Regions from separate parts of the Homo sapiens genome. Here region 1 is linked to region 2. Evidence: fine-mapped expression QTL. A gene starts in region 2. The other region holds a variant in brackets. All regions are shown on one strand. Distances are from middle to middle.

Evidence for each region. PIP is the estimated chance that this variant, and not a neighbour inherited with it, causes the effect.
Region 1: its variant is the best candidate, but not a certain one, in a credible set for the expression of CCDC3 in fibroblasts (GTEx, PIP 0.56).

Annotation. Positions count from the first base shown.
Region 1 is chr10:12,961,742-12,972,240 of GRCh38, reverse strand. The region is part of intron 2 of CCDC3 (coiled-coil domain containing 3); the gene reads left to right. Among named protein-coding and RNA genes, the nearest start is that of CCDC3, 35 kb to the left of the region's middle. The variant T/A (reference allele first, on the strand shown) is at 6,466.
Region 2 is chr10:12,996,230-13,006,961 of GRCh38, reverse strand. CCDC3 (coiled-coil domain containing 3) reads left to right here and starts at 5,249. Exons shown (of 3, transcript NM_031455.4): 1 at 5,249-5,765; 2 at 8,450-8,624. The coding sequence starts at 5,392. RefSeq lists enhancers at 5,119-5,619, 5,620-6,120.

The sequences.
Region 1 (10,499 bases), 35 kb after region 2:
GAAAACATGAAGAAACTCACAGGAACCAGTGAGGGTGGAGAGTGGGGTTGAGTTTAAGGGCATGTGTGGGTGCGTGAGCTTGGTTGGATTGTGTATGGCATGAGGTGGTGGTTTGATAGTGAGTTACTGTCCTGCACGCAGCAGTGTGCTAGGTGGAGAGAAGTCCAGGCTCCCAGCACAGGAGGTGATAGTTGAAGCCATAAGGCAGCATTAGGAGAGGCAGGAGAGAGCAGAGGGTAAAGACAAAAACTTCGGGCTGGGCATGGTGGCTCACACCTGTAATCGCAGCACTTTGGGAGGCTGAGGTGGTCAGATCACGAGGTCAGGAGTTTGAGACCAGCCTGGCCAACGTAGTGAAACCCTGTCTCTACTAAAAATACAAAAAAATTAGCCGGGCATGGTGGCAGGCACCTGTAATTCCAGCGACTTGGGAGGCTGAGGCAAGGAGAATCGCTTGAACCTGGGAGGCGGAGGTTGCAGTGAGCTGAGATTGCGCCACTGCACTCCAGCCTGGGCAACAGTACAAGACTCTGTCTCGAAAACAAACAAATAAAAACTTCGGGGCTTGGGCACTGGTGGGACCAGAAGAGGGAACACACCTCAGTCCAGCAGACAGCAAAGGAGCTGTTACAACACGGGCGGGAGAGCAGGGGTTGTGGCATGGCGGGACCCAGGCACAGAGGCTGCTGGGGACAATAGGGTAGCAGTGCCAGGAGCTGACATTCAGGATGCCAGGAGGACACTGGATCTGGCAAGGAGGCCATTTAGGACCTAGAGTGTGGGTTCCTTCTTTTCTGCATCTCCATCTGCGGTGGGCTACAGTGAGAAGCTGTGCTCTGAGTGAGAGATCTAAGGTTCTCAAAGACCAATTTGTGGCCAATCTGCAGGACCTGTTAAGGCAAGCAAATGTCCTCATTCCTTTCCGAAAGGATAGAAGCCACATGCATGTTCTGCCCAGGCATTGTTTCAGCTGCGCACGATGCCCCAGGCATTGGTTCAGCTGCCCACGATGGCCCCTTTCCTGCTCACGCCAGCTACTTAGGGTTACACTCCATGGTGTAAATATAGCTCATGAGTCCCTGGGGACAGGGAGGGAGGCAGCACTCTGTGGACAGTGGACAGCTTGGGATCTGATTCACATTAACGGTATAAGGCTTTTCTTCCCTTCAAAATTCTGTAACTCTGTAGACCTTTATATTTAAGCCTTGACATTACATCAGTAAGTAGATAGATTCCAGATTTAAAAAATGAACGTTGAGAAGTAGAAGGGTTTAATGATAGGCCAAACTTTGCGAAGTGCTTTATAGTTGCTTAGTTATTGGTTTGCAGACTGACAATTTTTTTTTTTTTTTTGAGACAGTCTTGCTCTGTCGCCCAGGCTAGAATGCAGTGATGCGATCTCAGCTCACTGCAACCTCCACCTCCCAGGTTCAAGTGATTCTCCTGCCTCACTCAACCTCCTGAGTAGCTGGGATTTCAGGTGTCTGCCACCATGCCCAGCTACGTTTTGTATTTTTGGTAAAGACAGGGTTTCACCATGCTGGCCAGGTTAGTCTCGAACTCTTGGCCTCAGGTGATCCCCAGTTGCCCTGCCTCGGCCTCCCAAAGTGCTGGGATTACAGGCGTGAGCCACCGTACCCGGCCCAGACTGACTTTTAATTTATTTAATTAAGTAAAAGTTGTATATGTTTATTGTGTACAGTATGATTTTAAATATATGTATACGTTGTAGAATGGCTACATCAAGCTAATTAACATGTATACTACCTCACAAACTTATTTTTTTGGGGTGAGAACCTTAAGATCTACTCTTTTAGCAATTTTCCAATACATACTACAGATGTACCTCAACTTACGATGGGGTTGTACAGCAATAAACCCACCGTAAGTTGAAAATGCATTTAATACCCCAGTGAACCCACGGTAAAGTTGAACTATTGTATATTGAACCACCATAATAGTGTTATTGACTGTAGTTGCCGCGATATGCAGTAGATTTTGTAAACTCATTCCTCCGGTGTAACTGAAATTTTGCGTCTGTGACCAACATCTCCCCTCACCCCTCATCCTTCAGCCTTTGCCAGGAAAAGCTGTGACTCACCCCTTCCTGTAACTTTTAAATTACCATCTTGGAGACCACCATTGATGAAAAAACCCTAAAAACCCATACATTAGAAAAAACACTACCAAAATACATCAAGAAGCTAATTTAACTTGAGATAAGGCATTGCAGGCTATCCTGTTTTAAATTAAAATGGCTTCATTAAATAGGCATACACTGAGTCCCTTTGAAGTATTTTATTTTTCTGTCTTATCCTCTGTTTCTATGAGTTTGACTTTTTTATACTCCACATATAACTGAGGTCACATGGTATTTTGCTTTTCTGTGACTGGTTTAGTTCACTTAACATAATTTCCTCCAGGTTCATCCATGTTGTCACAAATGACAGGATTTCCTCTTTTTTTTTTAAGAATGAATATCTTAAAAATATTTTTTAAAAATATTAGAATATTAAATATTAAAATTATTAAAATATTTTTTAAAATATTAAAAAATTTCTAAAATTTTTTTAAGAATGAATAATATCCTACCATATATATTATATAAAAAAACTTTTTTTATCCATTCATCTGTCAATAAACACTTAGGTTGGCTTCTTTTTCATACTGTTATCATATCCTTTGGATATGTACCCAGTAGTCGGTTTACTACTGGGTACGTAAGCTTCTGAATCTTATGTACTAAATTACCTTGGGTAATTCTATTTTTAATTTGTGGGTGTGTGTTGTTATATATTTACCATAATTGAACATAATTTCCAATCTATTTTTAATTTTTTGAGGAAACTCCATACTGTTTTCTATAGTGGTGTACTAATTTACATTCCCACCAACTGTTACAAAGGTTCTCTTTTCTCCACATCCTCATCATCATTTATTGCTTGTCTTTTTTATTATAGTCATTCTAACAGGTGTGAGATGACAGTTCATTATGGTTTTAATCTCCTTTTCCCTGATGATTCGTGATGTTGAGCATTTTCTTATTTACCTTTGGGCCATTTGTATGTCGTCTTTAGAGAAATGTCTATTTGGGTCCTTTGCCCATTTTTTAATTGACTTGTTTACATGCTATTGAGTAGTTTCAGTTCCCTGTATGTTTTGAATATTAACTTCTTATCAGGTGTGTAGTTTGTCTTTTATAGGAGATTTTAATCTGTTTACACTCAAGATAATTATTGATAGGTAAGGATGTACTATTGCCATTTTGTTAATTGTTTTTTGCTTGTTCCTTTGTTCCTTTCTTCCTCTCTTGCTGTCTTCTTTATGATTAGATGATTTTCTCTCATAGTTTGCTTTGATTCCTTACTTTCTATCTTTGGTGTATCTACTATAGATTTTTGCTTTGTGATTACCTTGAGGCTTACATAAAAGATACTGTAATGGGCTATTTATTTTAAGCTGTAAATAACTTAACCTTGATTGCATGATAATACTCCATACTTTTAATCCACCTCCCCATTTTGTGTTTTTGATGTCACAGTTTACATCTTGTATATCCCTTAAAAAATTATAGCTATTATTTTAAATAGTTTCATCTTTTAACCTTCATACTAAAGATAAATGTTACTTACATACCACCATTATAATATTAGACTGTTCTGAATTTGACTACTTACTTTTACAAATGAGTTTTATACTTTGATGTATTTTCCTGTTACCCATTAGCATCTTCTTTCAGCTTGAAGAACTCTCTTTAACCTTTCTTGTAAGACAGGTCTGTTGGTGATGAACTTACTAAGCTTTTGTTTGTTGGGAAAAGTCTTTCTCTCCATTTCTGAAGTACAGCCTTGCTAGGTACAGTGTTCTTGGTTGACAAGTTTTTTCCTGCAATACTTTGAATATATCATCCCACTTTTTCACGGCTTAGGTTTCTACTGAGAAATCTGCCACTAGCCTTATTGGAACTTCTTTATATATTGTTTTCCTGTTTTCTCTTGTTCCTTTTAGGATACTCTGTGTGTGTGTGTGTGTGTGTGTATGTGTGTGTGTTTGTATTTTCTTTTTTTTTTCTGAGGTGAAGTCTCGCTCTTTCACCCAGGCTGGAGTACAGTGGTGTGATCTTGGCTGCCTGCAAACTCTGCCTTCCAGCTTCAAATGATTCTCCTGCCTCAGCCTCCAGAGTAGCTGGGATTACAGGCACACGCCACCACACCTGGCTAATTTTTGTATTTTTAGTAGGGACTGGGTTTCACCATGTTGGTCAGGCTGGTCTCGAACTCCTGACCTTGTGATCTGCCCGCCTCGGCCTCCCAAAGCGCTGGGATTATAGGCATGAGCCACCATGCCCGACCTGTCTTTATACTTGACAGTGTGATGATAATATGTCTTGGGATAGTCTTGTTTGGATTGAATCTGATTAGAGAACTTTGACTTTCTTTTACCTGGATATTTGTGTCTTTCCCTAGAATTGGCATGTTTTCTGCTATTGTTTAAGCTTGCCTACCCCTTTGCCCCTATGTTTTTTTCCCTTAATTCCTGTAACTCAAGTATTTTTGTTCTTTTGATGTTGTCCCATAAATCCTGAAGCTTTCTTCATCCCTTTTCACTTTTTTCCTTTCTTTGCTGGCTGCATATTTTCAAATAACCTGTCTTTGAGTTCACAGACTTTTTTTCTCCTTGATCAATTTTGCTGTTGATATTTTCTATTGAACTTTTTATTAATTGTATTTTTCAGCTCCAGAATTTGATTTTTTAAAAATAATTGTAATATCTATTAAATTTCTAATGTTGATTATTTATTATTTTCCTGACTCATTGGGATATTTCTCTGATTTTTTGAGGTTCATTGAACATAAAATAATTATTTTGAATTCTTAGGCAGTTCACATATCTTAATTTCTTTGTGGTTAGTTACTGGGAGATTATAACACCACCAAAAGAATATGATATATTATTTGTTTCCTCATTACCTTATGCTGATGTCTGTTCATTTGGTGGAGAAGTCACCTCTTGGAGCTGTTCTGGGTTCATTTCACTATAGGAAGACCTATGCTGTTTATGGAATGGCACAAAAGTCAATACATTGCATATGGAACCAGCCTTTAAAAAGTCAAAACTGATTTATGGGAGAAGGTGGAGAGGGGCATGGTTTCACAGCTGCCTCACCCTGGGTAAATCGCTCAGCTTGTTCAACTCCTTAGAAAGCTGGAGGAAGCCCAGAAGATGAAGGGACTCCAGCAAAAGAGATCTGGAAGATGATACAGGCTGTTACCCTGGACAGTTCGTTTAAAATAGCTGGGTTTCCATTTCCACACCCTGCCTTCCTCCCAGGTTTGTTGAGGAGACCCAAAGAGATAAGATACGGGAAACTGTTTTGAACATTGTCAAGTGCTATACAAAGTAAGGTATGGTTAAACCTCTTCATTTTAGAACACGTTGGAATTTGAAGGCGCCCAATAAATACTGGTTTCCTCACCCACTTTCTGACTTAACTGAGTCAAAGATTTCCTTTCTTAACTGATGAAGATGATACAGTGTGGCTTGTATCTGTAGGCAAGAGGGATGATTCCCAACCTCAGGGTTAGATGGACTTAGGAGGCACAGGTCGCTTTGGAAAACCGTAGCCCATGTCTGGGGCGTGTCTGATGCTCTAAAATTTTCTGCTTCGATAAGAAGCAGACTGGACTGGGAACTCCCTGTGGCCAGCTGGCTCCCAAGAGGAAAAGGGGAGAGCTAGGCATGCTTTGTTCCTGTTTGCAAGTACAGGAATCAGAGTCCCTGCCTGTTCCCGGAGGGGTGTGAGGGTCTGGGGAGAAGCCAGGAGCATGCTTGTAATGCAAGACTCATTACACAAAAACTAGCAGGCTGGGGAAGGGAGATTCCTCCTATAGATAGTAGCGTAAATAGGCTGTGCTGAATTTAAAGCCCACAGCCCCTCAGTTTCTAGTTTCTCAACCTTGCTCATATAGTAATATGAGTAAGGCTGGTAACTGAGTACCATATAGTAATATGAGTAAGGCTGGTAACTGAGTACCATATAGTAATATGAGTAAGGCTGGTAACTGAGTAAGGTTGAGAAACGAGAAACTGAGTTTGTGGGCTTTGACTTCAGCACAGCCTATTTACGCTACTGCCAGGGGCTTATTGCCCACAGACGGTGATAGAGTGAGGCCCAGCCTTGGGAACATCTCGTGAAAGGCTTGCAAAGGGGACCTAAGAAAATGCCTGGGATGGTGGATTCACTCTGTGCTGGAGAAACTTAATGATTTGTGGTCATCAAAAATGAACTCCTTATTCACTTTCACAAGACTCAATGATTTATCATCCAATGTGAACTGTGTTCTGAATCCTATTCTCTACATACTTTGGTGCAGACACCTTCTCCATGTGCCATTTACAACGTGTGTATGTCACGAAGCCTTCTCTTTAGGGCTGAGCCAACTTGGCATTCTGTCTTGCATGATG[T/A]CTCCTTATAGACAGAAAATTCCAAACTGCCGGCATCCAAAAGTTAATGACTCATGATTACATGAGAAAAGAAGCATTAACAACGAATGACAAATTGTTTATACTTTGAATGTCATGGCTAATCACTTGGTTTTTAAAGATGTACTGTTACAGCAAAAAATTAGTGTTTAAGAAAAGATATATTTGCCTTTCTATGTGTCTTGTGACACTGTGAGTGACATCTCTCTTACGTACACTCAAAAATCTAACAATCATCGGGAGTAGGAATCGTAAATTTATATTGAACTCTAGTTGGTGAACTGAACCATAATTTTAGTTGTGGTGTGTATATGTGACTATGACAGTATAAGTACATATAATTTATAAAATATGTTTGGAAGTCCTTTGGGAGGGAGGAGGGAGAAGATTTTCCCTCTAATTTCCAAGGTTTAGTAACTGGGTCTATGAAATAAACTGACAACAGGCAGATTAACAGGATAAAAGATACACAAGTTTATTAAGTGCACAGGGACATCATAGGAAAAAAAGTCATACCCCTTAAAACAGTGAGATTTAGAAGGTTATATACCCTCTTTTTGGGGAAAGCAGGGAGGGGGGATGTAGGCAATTTAGGAGAGAGAAAATGATTTTGGGGAAAGATGAATAGACCCTCAGAATAAGTGATAGCTTGTGACAAACCTTGGGTGTGATGTCACCTCCATTCTCCTCTCCTGTGATAAGAGTTAATTTTCCCTGGTTGATGAAACTCCCAGGGGTGGGGGTACTGACGACAACTGAGCTCCTTTTGGAGGTTTTGTCTTTAGGCAGATAAAGGGAATTCAGAGAAAGCCACTGTCTGCATGTACTGTTTTTCAAGTTCCTCCAGCTCAAAGTAGTCTTTATGCCAAAGCAGCATATTTTGGGGTGGCCTGTCCTAAACTCCTACATACTACTTTAAATTATGTATAAACTTTACTCCCTAATGCCTGCATGTTCTTAATACATTTACCAGTGGTGTGACTGTAGGTGTCACTTGCCCTCTTTGTCTCTTTGTTCATCTGCAAAGTGGAGTCAATTACATTGTTAAGGATGCCTTTGGCTACAAGTAAGAGAAAACTGGACTCAATGAATTTCAAACAGTGAGGAAATGTATTATCACATGAGGCAAGAAAGCAAAGGTAGTGGTAGCTCCAGGCACGGGTTAATCAGGGATCTGGGTCCCCTCTTGGTGATTCTTTTGGCTCGGCATTCTCTCTTCGTGGTACTGTTGTTCTCAGGCTAGATTCCTTCATGGATGCAAAAAGGCTGCAGCACTTCCAGGCATAAACTACAGACCCAACAAGATCTGAAAGCGGGAGAGATTATTTTGGTGTGGCTTTTATAAAGAACAGAAAATGTCATTCTCTCTCTTTTTTTTTTTCTTTAAGATGGAGTTTTGCTCTTGTTGCCCAGGCTGGAGTGCAATGGTGTAATCTCAGCTCACTGCAACCTCTGCCTCCCGGGTTCAAGCGATTCTCCTGCCTCAGCCTCCTGAGTAGCTGGGATTACAGGCATGCACCACCATGCCCAGCTAATTTTGCATTTTTAGTAGAACCGGGGTTTCTCCATGTTGGTTAGGCTGGTCTCGAACTCCCGACCTCAAGTGATCCGCTTGCTTCACCCTCCCAAAGTGTTGGAATCACAGGCATGAGCCACCGCTCCCGGCTGGAAAATGTGATTCTCATGAGCAACTTCTCCCTCTCCACAACCAGCAAGCTTTTTCTCACATGTCATTGGCCAGAGTTGTATCACTGACTTGTACCTTGTAGGCCTGCTTAATTAGCTTAGACCAATAACGACTCGCCTCCTGGGACATCCCGCCCTGAAGTAATGGCCATGTGAAAGACAGTGCAACTTTAAGAAAACTGGAGTTCAGGCCAGGCTTGGTGGCTCACGCCAGTAATCCCAGCACTTTGGGAGGCTGAGCTGGGTGGATCACTTTCAGGTCAGGAGTTTGAGACCAGCCAGAACAACATGGTGAAACCCCATCTCTACTAAAAATACAAAAAATTCGCTGGGCATGGGTGGTGCACGCCTGTATTCCCAGTTACATGGGAGGCTGAGGCGGAGGATCACTTGAATCCGGGAGAAGGAGGTTGCAGTGAGCCAAGATCATGCCACTGCACTCCAGCCTGGGTTAGAGTGAGATCCTGTCTGAAAAAAAAAAAAAAAAAAAAACCCGGAAAACAAAACTGGAGTTCAATAGGAAGGAAGGCAGGAATTAGGCAACATACATAATAACCCCTATAGGATCATTATGAGGAACAGATAGAACATATGATTTAATGTGTTAGTATATATGAAACTCTTTAGAAAGTGTTGAAGACGTGGGAAGTGCTATGTGTGTATTTGCTGCTGTTATTGGGATTAGCATGTGGATTTGGTAAGTCTCAATGCCATACCAGTGAAAAGGATCATTGTGAATGGTGCTGTTTAGAGATAGAGGAAGAGAGATGGATTGTAAAGGTCAACAAGGTTAAGAGATCTCAGAAGCAAAGAGGAGATGGAGTGAGCAGTTGGCCTATGTTTGGTCATAGTCTGTATCTTGAGAGGAGGTAAAGCAGCCTTCTAAATAAAGAAAAAATATGATCGCTTAATGTGTTAATGAAACCCAGTCTCAATTGCCTCTTCTTTCCCACAGCTATTTTCTTTCACTAGTTGAAAGTGGTGTTTAACTGCAGACGTATTTTTAAAACAGCCAAGGTCTCTTAACCAAATAAAAAGCATAGATCCCATTACTTTTGATGAGGGAAGAATGGAGGTGGAAAATAGTGTATATAAGTATGTAAGTTTAAATCTTTTTATGAAAACACACACATAAAGCTTGGAAGAAACCATATAAAAGCTGTCAACCCTAGCCAAAAAGAAGGAAAAGAAGAAAATTGGCTTCCTAAGCTTTTAGCTATAAATAAAAATAACCTTCCTGATCTATGTTTGATGCATTACTTGGGAAAAACTTTACTCTTGTGTATTCTGAATGATTTTTGAGTGTTTTTCACACTTAAAAATCCCTGTAATGTTTGATGTCATTTTATACCACTTAGGACTTAGCTTTTCCTTCTGACCCCTTGATGTGTCATTTTAAATGTAACAGTGACAGTTGTAAGCCGTTCGAAATGTAACAGCCCATTTTATTTGTTTAAATTTTTGTTTTTTGAGACAGAGTCTTGCTCTGTCACCAGGCTGGAGTGCAGTGGTGCGATCTTGGCTTACTGCAGCCTCCAGCTCCCAGGTTCAAGCAATTCTCCTGCCTCAGCCTCCTGAGTAGCTGGGACTACAGGCACCTACCACCACACCTGGCTAATTTTTGTATATTTAGTAGAGACAGGGTTTCACCATGGTGGCCAGGATGGTCTTGATCTCTTGACCTCGTGATCCGCCTGCCTCGGCCTCCCAAAGTGCTAGGATTACAGGCGTGAGCCACTGTGCCCGGCCAAAAGCCCATTTTATTATGGCACTTCATTAATGCATCAAGTTTTATTCTTGCAACCTTGAGATTTGGGGGCTTACTGATCGTTACGTGTTTTTCTTGAATGCAAAGCCAATTACTTTCAGGGAGGGTGTCTATGTGACAGGAGAATTTGTCATATCAAATCCTTCCACTTCAGAGAAGCCGAAGAAGGCCTGGAGAAATTTGGGAGCTCTTACACAGCATGAAGATAGCAGTTTCTGTTTTCATTCTTCTTGGCCTTTTATCAAACTTACTTTCAATCTTTTCAGAGAGCAACGTTCCATTATTTACAATCAATCTCATAAAATGTGATGTTTGCCCATCTGTCTGGCTTGGCACTTAGCATATACGGGTCCAAGTAATCCTTTATTCCTTATCAGAGGTTTACATTTCCTCCTATGCATACCCTTCAAAAATGGGTCAGTGGGGGTATTTCTCCATATTTATGGAATATTTTAAGTTCAGCCTGCAGCTAGCTACTTGGAAGCTTCATGAGGGGTTGAGCAGCATGAACCAAGGAAAGGGCTGAAATGGAAATTGTGCTGATTTCATCTAATTACTTAGG
Region 2 (10,732 bases):
TTTGACAGTGGATAGTTGATCATGATGTCTCTTGAAAGTAAATATGTGGGCAACCTGTGGGTGTAGTGCCTGATCTATGTAACAGCAAAAACTCTGGTAGCTGAAAACCTGACTTGAATTCCCACAGAGAGGAACTGAAGCCCCTTACCTAGCTTTTAGACATAAGTAAATTTATAGACACAGAGCCTTTTGACTGAAAGGTAAGCCAGGTGCCCTTGAGGAAGGACCCTGCACCATTGCCACATGCACACACCATAAATCCTCCTCTAAGACTTCTCCAAAGGGACCAAAGTTGACAACTGACAAACCCCCACATTTTCTCTCTGACCCATGGGTGATGGCTTTTATTGTTGGAAGGACTAAGCAGAAGCTCCTAGAACTTTCATTTCTACCAAGAGAATAAATCAGAAGCAATATTGCATCCCTGAGGGGATTGCAAAAATCCATGCTGCCATCAAAGACTTGAAAGAAGTGGCGATAGTTATCACATCTCCACTGAACTCATCAGTTGGGCTGTGCAAAAGTTGCATGGGTCTTGAAGAATGACTGAAGACTACTATGAACTTAATGAGGTGGTGGCTAAAATTCCAGCTGCTGTCCTAGATGTAGTATCTTTCCTGGAGCAAATTGATATGTCTCCCAGCATTTGCTTCGTAGCTACTGACCTGCCCTTTTCTCCTCACTGATTTGCAAGGATTGCCAGCAACGGTTTGCATTTACCTGTCAGGGCTAACAGTATACTTTCAGTTTTGCCTCAGGCTATGTCAATTCTCCTGCTCTCTATCACATTTATTCTGCAGAGATGTTGATTGTCTTGACGTTCCACAAAACATCACATTGGATTACCTCATGGATGACAGTATGATGAATGGATCTGATGTTCATGAAACACCATATACTTTAGAGGCCTTGGTAAGATATAAGGTGGGAGATAGGCCCCACAAAAATTCAGGGACCTGCCACCTCAGTATGGTTTCTGGGGGCTCAATTGTCACTCCTCCAAGGCAAAAGGAAAGTTGCTGGTCCTTGGATGATCTAAATGGGAAAAGAGGGAGAATGTATGTTCAGCCTTTTTGTATTTAGGAGGGAACATATGCCACATTTAAAAATGCTTTTTGAATTCATCTATAGAGTTATCTCTAAGGCTGCCAGTTTCAAGTGGTGTTGAGCAAGTTCTGAGAAGTCTCTGCAGCAAGTTCAGGCTGTGTACAAGTCACTGTATCACTTGAGCCTTATTATCTAGAAGGTCCAGTGATAAAGTATTTATGGCAAACAGGAATGTTGTATGGAGTCTTTAGAAAGCACCAGAAGGAAAATCACAGCACAAAACTCTGGGGTTTTAGTGCACATCTATGCCTTATTCTGGATATGGCTGTTTGCCTTTTGAAAAATAGCATCTCCCTTGCTACTAGGCTGTGGTAGAGATTGAATGCCTAACCATGGTATGCTGGGTGACTATGTAATCTGAACTTCTCATCATGAATTGGGTGTTGTATGACCCTCCTAGACATAAGGCCATGTGTGCGCAGCAGCAATCTACCATTAAATGGAAATGGTATCCAAGAGACTGGGATTGGGCAGGTCCAGATGGTGCAAGCAAGTTGCATGGGCAAGTGGCTTAGATTCCTTTGACTCTGAAGGTACGTTGCCTCTTCCACTCATATGGTTTATGGCCTCTTGAAGATACTCCAGTTGAATGAGGAAGAAATAACAAGACTGGTTTGAAGATTTTTCTGTATTACACACAGATATTACTCAGTTTCACTCATGGGTGATCCTGAAGGACACTGGTGAAGAAAAATTCTCCCAGTCGATAGAACTTTGAGCAGCAGATTTTGTTGTATGCTATGTCTAGACTAAGAGAGGGCTGGGAGTACACATGGACACTGATTCGTGGGCAGTTGCTAGTGGTTTGGTTGATGGTTAGGGACTTGAAAGAAATAGGATCAGAAGATTGATGACAAGGACATCTTGGGAAGAGGTGAATGAATGGACATCTTATAACGGTTACCAAGTGTGAAGATATTTGTGACCCATGTGAATGATGACCAAAGTGCATTCAGTGGAGGGGAAGTTCTTAGTGATTAGGTGGGCAATTGATGTACTCAGTGGGTGTCTGTCAGTCTCTTTTCTTGGCCACTCTACTGCTTACTCAATGAGCCCATAAACAGAGTGGCCATGGTGGCAGAAACAGAGGGTATTCATTGCCTCAACAATGTGGACTTCCTCTTACCACGGCTGGCCTAGCTAACACTACTACTACTGCTGAGAGCCTAATATGTCAACAATAGAGGCCAACATGGATCCCCTAATGTGGCCCCATTCACCTGGGGAACTAGTCAGCCACCTGGTGGCAGGTTGATTCCATCGGACCTTTTCCATCTTGGGGTGGGGGGTGGGGGTCAGAGATTTGTCCTCACTGAAATAGACACATTCTGGACACGGATATGCCTTCCCTGCCATAATGCTTCTGCCAGTAGCACCATCTATGGACTCATGGGGCACCTTATCCACCATCATGGAATTTCCCATAGTGATGTTTCTGATCAATGATTCCCACAGCATTGCTTCTTTCACAGCAATGAAGTGCAGCAGTGGTCTCAAGGCCATAGAATTAACTGGTTTTACCACATGTCCCATCACCTGGAAGCAACTGGACAAATTTTGAAGGATGTAACAGTTTAGTGAAGACTTAATTATAGTGTCAGTTGGGAGTCACCACACTGAAATGATGGAGTCCATCTTAAAGTGTACTTACTGTGTGTGCTTTGAAACAGAACATACATATACGGTACTATCCACCCCACAGCCAGGACATATAGGTCTCGGAATCAAGAGATGGAAGTGGCTCATGTCACTATTAAACCCAATAATTCACTCACAGAAGTTTTGTTTCCCCTCCTGGCTACCTTGAGCTCTGCTTGTTTGGAAGTCTTAGTCCCCAAAGAGGAACTGCTCACTACGGTACACTGCAATGGCTCAATCAGGAAGAGAAACCCAATCAGTGAGGCACTCTGCCAGATCTTACAGGGGAGAAAAGCATGACTGATGTGTCTGCTGAATCCATGAGGACGATTTCTTGCAGGTGCTCACTTCTGCAAAATACACTGTGGGAAGTATTGGAAGAGTTTTGATTCTGTCAAGTTTATACAACAAGAGAAAAAACAGCCATGTTTGCTGATTTTTATTTATTTGCTCACCTATGTGGAAAGAAAAGAGAGGGCCTTACAGTCTTTTGGGGTAGACAAATCTTTTCCAGGCCTTCAAGACACTTGAAGATGCAGTTAGTAAGAAAAACTTTCTTACTATCTTATCTGATGAGTTACAGTATAGGACTAAAATAGAGCAGGGATTCTGGGTCATACAAAATTAATGTTAGGTCAGTTGCACACTCCTTGAGCCATCATTGGTGACTCTGCTAAGGTTTTCTCTTAATTTGCTCTGTGTATATCCTGGTTAAAGGGCCGACCTGTGTCTTTAGAGCATTTCCTATATTTGGCCCTATTCTAGTGTTGTAGTTAAGTACATGGATCTGGAGTCTGATTGCTGGGAGCTGAATCCTAGCTTGGTCAACTTGTAGCTTTGTGATCTTTGGTGTCAATTAACTTCTCTGTGCCTGTTATCTGTAAAATGAGGATAATAGTTATATCTACTTCAGAATATTGTTTGGAGAATTTATTAAGATGACATATGTACAGTCCTTACAACAGTGATTGGCCCATGGTCAACAATGACTAAGGTTTAGCAATTCTTATTATAACTTGGCAGTGTGTGCTGTGAGTCTGCCTGCCAGGAATATAAACCATTTGGGATCCCTGCTCTCTTTCTCTAGCAAACCTGCAGAACACCTGCTAAATAGCTCATATAGACTGAATTATGTCTCCCCTCCCACCTCCAAATTCATATGTTGAAGTGCTAACTCCCTAATGTGACTGTATTTGGAAATAGGGTCTTCAGGCAGGTAATTAAATGAGGACATAAGGGTGGGGTGATAACCCCATAGGACTAGTGACCTTGTTAGAAGAGGAAGAGACCAGGGCTCACTCTTTCTCCATCACACACAGAGAGAAGGCCACGTGAGGACACAGTGAGAAGGTGGCCGTCTGTAAGCCAGGAAGAGAGGCCTCACCAGTAACCAACCCTAGCACTTTAATCTTGGACTTCCTGCCTCCAAAACTCTGAGAAAGTAAGGTCTGTTATTTAAGCCACCAGACTAGAGTATTTTATTATGGCAGCCCTGGGAGACTAATAGCATTATGAAATTGCATAATTTAAATATTCAGGGTGGATGTGGGGGCTCACGCCTGAAAGTTCAGCACTTTGGGAGGCTGAGGTGGGAGGATCGATTGAGCCCAGGAGTTTGAGACCAGCCTGAGCAACATAGCCTGTCTCTACTAAAAACAAAAAATTATCCGGGGTGGCAGTGTGCTTGTATTCCCAGCTACTTGGGAGACTGACCTGGGAGGATCACCTGAGCCCAGGGGAGGTCGAGGCTGCAGTGAGCCCTGATGGAGCCACTGTACTCCAGCCTGGGTGACAGATATAGACCTTGTCTCAAGAAAAAAACAAAAAACAAAACAAAAAACCTGTTGCCTTTAGAGATAAAGATGGAACTGTGGAGTCAGTATCCTCAAATTCACTCACTGATGTGAAAAGCTGTTTGGGATTTACTTCTGAATGTATTTCTCAGGTGTACAGTGTTTAGAAAATGGAATCAGGGATTATGGAAACCAAGAAAATCAGGGCCAAATGATTGCTTTTTGGAATCTTTTATCAAAGCTTTTCTAAGATCTTCATTAAATAACTAGCAAATCTGAGAGAGCACGAGATCTCAGCCCACACTGAATTTCCTAATCTCTGGGAATATAAAGTCAGATTTGGTTTCTATGTATTTTTACTCTGAAATGTAGAGAAAATGTAAAAACTTAGGCAGTAATCGTGCAAATTAAGAGTCATTCTTTAATGAATGCCTTGCGTTTGCAAACAGGCTTTACGCCTGGCAAGCTCGGACCACGTCCATCGTGGGGCGCCAGGAGATTGCTGGGCCACTGTCCCCAATTCAGGGCTGGGTCCCGGCGTCCCCGCGTTCTCCGAGTCCCTGGTCCCCGCCCCAGCCGGCGCCGGGACCCGCCCGACTCCCCGCCCCTCCCCCGCCCACGCCCCAGCCGCAGGGGGCAGGGCGGGAGGCGGGCGCCCGGCGCGTCCAGTCCCCGGGACCCTTTTAAAGCGTGGCGCGCCAGGGCCGGGCATGCCGAGCCCCGTGGCGGAGACAGCGGTGCGCTCAGCTCCCGGGAGCGGCCCGAGCAGCCGAGCGCCCAGGGCTGCCCTTCCCGGGCCGGCGGGCTCCCCGGGCTCCCCGCCGCCGCCCCGTGCGCCCCGGGAGGGCCCGGCATGCTGCGCCAGCTGCTGCTCGCCGCGCTCTGCCTGGCGGGTCCCCCAGCGCCCGCGCGCGCCTGCCAGCTGCCCTCCGAGTGGAGGCCCCTGAGCGAGGGCTGCCGCGCCGAGCTGGCCGAGACCATCGTGTACGCCAGGGTGCTGGCGCTGCACCCCGAGGCGCCCGGCCTCTACAACCACCTGCCCTGGCAGTACCACGCCGGCCAGGGGGGCCTCTTCTACTCGGCCGAGGTCGAGATGCTGTGCGACCAGGCGTGGGGCAGCATGCTGGAGGTGCCCGCCGGCTCCAGGCTCAACCTCACCGGCCTGGGCTACTTCTCGTGCCACTCCCACACCGTGGTCCAGGACTACTCCTATTTCTTCTTCCTCAGGTGAGCCCGGCGGCGCCGCCGCCACCTCTCTCTCTCTCTGCGCCACCTCCCGAGGTCGCCGTTACCTAGAGCCAGGCCGGTAACTCCCCGGGCAGCCTGTCGGTGTCAAGTGAGAATGCCCCTGGGGCGCCTACCCCTTGCCTTCTTGGATCTTTCTTGCTCCGTCTGACGTCTCTACAGACATCCTGACTACCCCTGGTTAAGGCGGTTTAAAAGACAGGGAAGGTTTCTGTGCCTTGTACACAGAAGAGCATTGCAGACAGAAGCTCAAAGCGCCCTCCAACAGTCCCTTTGACTTGGGTTTTTAAACTGGCCTCAGTGGGAGTAGATTGGGACGGTGAGAAAAACAATCTTTGAAATCAGTCTGTGGCTGGCATTTTGGCTCTGCCCTTCCTAACCGTGATTCTGAGCGCATTTCTTGACACCTTCTCAAGAACTTCCATAGCCTCACCTGTGTAAAGTGAGAGACAGGGCTGGTTGAGTGAGGAACGTAACTCATGCAAAGCACCTGGTGCAGGTTAGAAGTTGACCAGCTGTCCACTCTCTCCTCTTCCTCATTTGCTCAAATGCCAAGATGTGAATGGTGTGGAATGTAGCCCGGGATTGCTTCACTGTCTCATATCAGCTGCCAGGTTCTTTGAAATAGCAAAGGTTTACTAGGGCTTGGGGTTCTGCTGCTGGTAAAATCCTGGGTAGCAATGCTTTGAGGAGTGGAGAGGTGAACCAGGCCAGGAGGTCCTCTTTGATTATAGACCACTGGAATCTTCTGAAGTTCCATGAACTTCAGAACTTGGCCTGTGGTCAAGATGGAATGCATCTGCCTAAGAATTCAGTCAATTCTCATTGACTACTGAATTCTTCTGAAATTTGAATAGAGAGTGCCAGGTAGAACTCTAAATTCTTTGGTTAGCTTCAGTTGGAATTTGGAGAGTGATATAAAACAACTGAGAAAAACATCAAAATGGAATCTAACCTATCTATCAAGATAGTAAATTAATCCACTGTTGGGGTGATCGGTTGTAGTTCGTTTTCCCAGTCTGGGAAGTAGCACTGAGGATATTTGGAATGAGGCTGACGTGGGTCTGCAGATTCACTTTTAGCTCGCATTTCTCTGAGAAAGAAAACAGTTCTACAAAGTGGTGTTTGTAAGTGCATGGCAACACATGTTTTCCATATTGAAGCCAGAATATCTAAGTTTAAAAAACACGTCTTGCTTTGTGTTGGCTTGAGTGGTTCAGCTAGATTAAGTTTTTATATATATGTATGTATTTCCAGAGAAGTGTAGTTTCTAAATAAAGCCAGTGAGACTGAGAGAGTGCCCTTCTCGATACAGAGAAACTTAGGGTTTCATGTTTTTAATTAGGAAAGATACTGAGAAACCATCTATAAAACTATTCAAAACCAGAACTTTGTTCTCCAAAGGAAAAAGAGCCCAAGTGTTTGAGCAGGCTTTTTAAAGAAATTTTTATCATGAAATACAGTTTGTCCAATAGTTCCGTGGTGCTCAGCCAATTCTCATCTTTTTTGCTCTACCATGTTTACAAAAGTTAGGGCAGAAATACAAAGACAGTAGTCTGACATTTTCATTTCACAGGGCTGTCTTGCCTTGGAGTGTGTTAACAACTACACACAAATCATTCCTTCTCTGTTATTCTGGGACCCACTGAGATGAAACTGGACCTGTGGTCACTGTCAGGGGTGAGGGTGGCAACGGAGACTTGCTGGTGAGCCCTACGTGTTTTCTGTAGACTGGAGTGTAACTTTCATCTCTTTCTTTTTGTGACATTTTAAAGAATCATTCTAATTGATTAATGCTAGGCCTTTAAATGTGTTCACTAACATGCATACTGCATTTACTTTGTACCAAGTGCTTCATTTACTTAGGTTTTTGATGCAATGCTTATGACATCACCAGAAAAGTAGGTACTATTTTTTACTTATATATGTTCTTTTTTTGAGATGGCGTCTCACTCTTGTCACCCAGGCTGGAGTGCAATGGTGCAATCTCTGCTCACTGCATCCTCCGCCTCCTAGGTTCAAGTGATTCTCCTGCCTCAGCCTTCTGAGTAACTGGGATTACAGGTGTGTGCCACCGTGCCCAGCTAATTTTTGTATTTTTAGTAGAGACAGGGTTTCACTGTGTTGGCCAGGCTGGTCTCGAACTCCTGACCTTAGGTGATCCACCTGCCTTGGCCTCCCAAAGTGCTGGGGTTACAGGTGTGAGCCACCGCACCTAGCCAGTACTATATTCTTTTTGCAGATTAGAATACTGAAGCTTAGAGGAGTTAAGACATTTGTTTCATGTCATACAGAAGATAAATAGCAAAGACAGAACTTAAACATAGGTGATGACAGCTGGCCTTTTTTTCACCAGGAAATAAGGAACACTCTTTGAGAAGGAAGACCCCTTGGGGGACTTGGAAGACAACACAAATAGACAAACAGGCACCATACACATAGTTTTCTCCATACTTTGCTCAAACTCATCTTTTTGAAAACCTTAAGGATAGACTGATGTAGCGTGAGACAAAGAAATAATTAGAAGTAGTAACTCCTCTAATGAGAGCCATGCCAGACATTGATGTGAAATTGGCAAGCCCGTTGCAGTTGTCTGTGACTCTGGATTGGAGCTGGTACACCCTTGACTGTCTAGCCTACATGTCTGCCTTTTTTTCCTCCATTAGGATGGATGAAAATTATAACCTCTTGCCTCACGGAGTCAATTTCCAAGATGCCATCTTCCCAGACACTCAAGAGAACAGAAGGATGTTTTCTAGCCTTTTCCAGTTTTCAAACTGTTCGCAAGGGCAGCAGCTGGCGACTTTCTCCAGTGACTGGGAAATCCAGGAAGACAGTAGGGTAAGAATTGGCTAAATCCTGTGCCACAGCAAAACAATAGTATAGCTACACCTTGTGTGAATTTTGTGACCAAAGGAATCAAGAATACTCTTCCAAAAGCCCAGATCAGAGAGTATTAGCGTATGCCCTCTCTCTCTCCTGCTATCCCTCCTTACCTCCCAGCTGTTAAAAAAGACCATTCATAAACTTTGGATCCCTGAAGCTTTACTGTTGGATAAGGAGTTCTTCCCAAAGTATGAGAACAAGATGAGATGAAGATTGGCATGCTGAGCCTCAGTTTCCTCTTCTACAGAACAGGGACAATAGTAGCATCTATATCAGGCTTGTCCAACCTGCAGCCCAGGACAGTTTGAATGTGGCCCAACACAAATTTGTAAACTTTCTTAGAACATTACGAGATTTTTCTGCAATTTTTTTTTGCTTATCAGCTATCGTTAGTGTTAGTGTATTTTATGTGTGGCCCAAGACAATTCTTCTTCCAATGGGGCCCAAAAGATTGGACACCCCTGATCTATGTCAGAGGGCTAATGCAATATGATTTAAATATGTAAAAACTATAATTATGTAAATCCGTTAGCGTAATGCTTAAAAGAGTAAGTGCTCAATACATGTGAGCCGTTACGACTGTTCCTGACTGTGTATGATTGTCATGGACAGCACAGGGCCCTAAGAAATTGTCTTAGAGGAAAGGAAAAGTGCTGAGGGAAATGAAATGAAATTGCTATCATAGCTACCACTTCTGTGATTCTTAACTATAGTTGGTAAGACATAGAGGTGCAGGATGGCCAAGGTGGTTGCAAAATGTAAGGGTCGGGATCGTAAGGGTTGGGAATGAAAATATAAAAGAGTCTTCCGATCTGGGCCAAATGCCAGAGTTGGAGGAACATTTTGATGATCATCACTCTTCCAAAGCAATGGGCTTTGCCACAACCAAGTTGGGATGATAGTGGGGGCCAGGCCAGTCTAGGCCTCTGGGGCTGTGACCCATCTCTTCCGGTCCCCGATTGAAGACATTTTTAGGGCAATGTGACACACTGCTGGAGAGAGAGTTCTGATGTGGGTATCACATGGAATAAGGACTTTTTTTTTTTTTTTCCATTAACGAACCCATTTGCACATGTTAAGAGACTCCCTTCTTTCCACCCATCAAGAAGGGTTTGAGGGAAGTGTCTTTCTCTTGTCTGGTGGGATGGCCTAGGGTAGCTGCCTTGTTCTTCCGAATCCCCTTATTGTCTTTTTTATTTTGTTTTCCTTCCAACTTTTATTTTAGGTTCAGGGGGTACGTGTGTAGGTTTATGACGTGGGTAAATTGCGTGCCACTGGGGTTTGGTATACCAATCGTTTCGCACCCAGGTAGTGAGCACAGTACCTGAGAGGTAGTTTTTCCATCCTCACCCTCCTCCCACCCTCACGTAGGCCCCCGTGTCTATTGTTGCCATCTTTGTGTCCATGTGTACTCAATGTTTAGCTCCCATTATAAGTGAGAACATGCAGTGTTTGGGTTTCTGTTCCTGCGTTCATTTGCTTAGGATAATGGCCTCCAGCTGCATCCATGTCTGCAAAGGACAGGATTCAAACCCGCTTCAAAGGGAGATTCAAAGGGAGCTTCTCCCAGGGCTCCCTGGACCCTGGAGGCCTTCTTCATGCTCTTGCACAGAAGCTATTCCTGTGAAGGGCTGGTACGTCCAACTAAGGGAAAGGATTTCTTCTTCTTTGACATATGTCTGTAATCCCAGCACTTTGGGAGGCCGAGGTGGGGGGATCACCTGAGGTCAGGAGTTCAAGACCAGCCTGGCCAACATGGCGAAACCCTGTCTCTACTAAAAATACAAAAATTAGCTGGGCAGAGTGGTGCGTGCTTCTAATTCCAGCTACTCGGGAGGCTGAGGCAGGAAAATCGCTTGAACTCAGGAGGCGGAGGTTGCAGTGAGCCGAGATCACACCATTGCACTCCAGCCTGGGCGACAGAGTAAGACTCCATCTCAAAGAAACAAACAAACATACATTCCTCAGCTCTGCCCTACTGACAGCAGTCTAGACTTTTCTAACCCCTCCCTGATGGTTAGAAAGTTAGAACTTTCTGAACGCTTCTCATGTAGTTTGCTCCC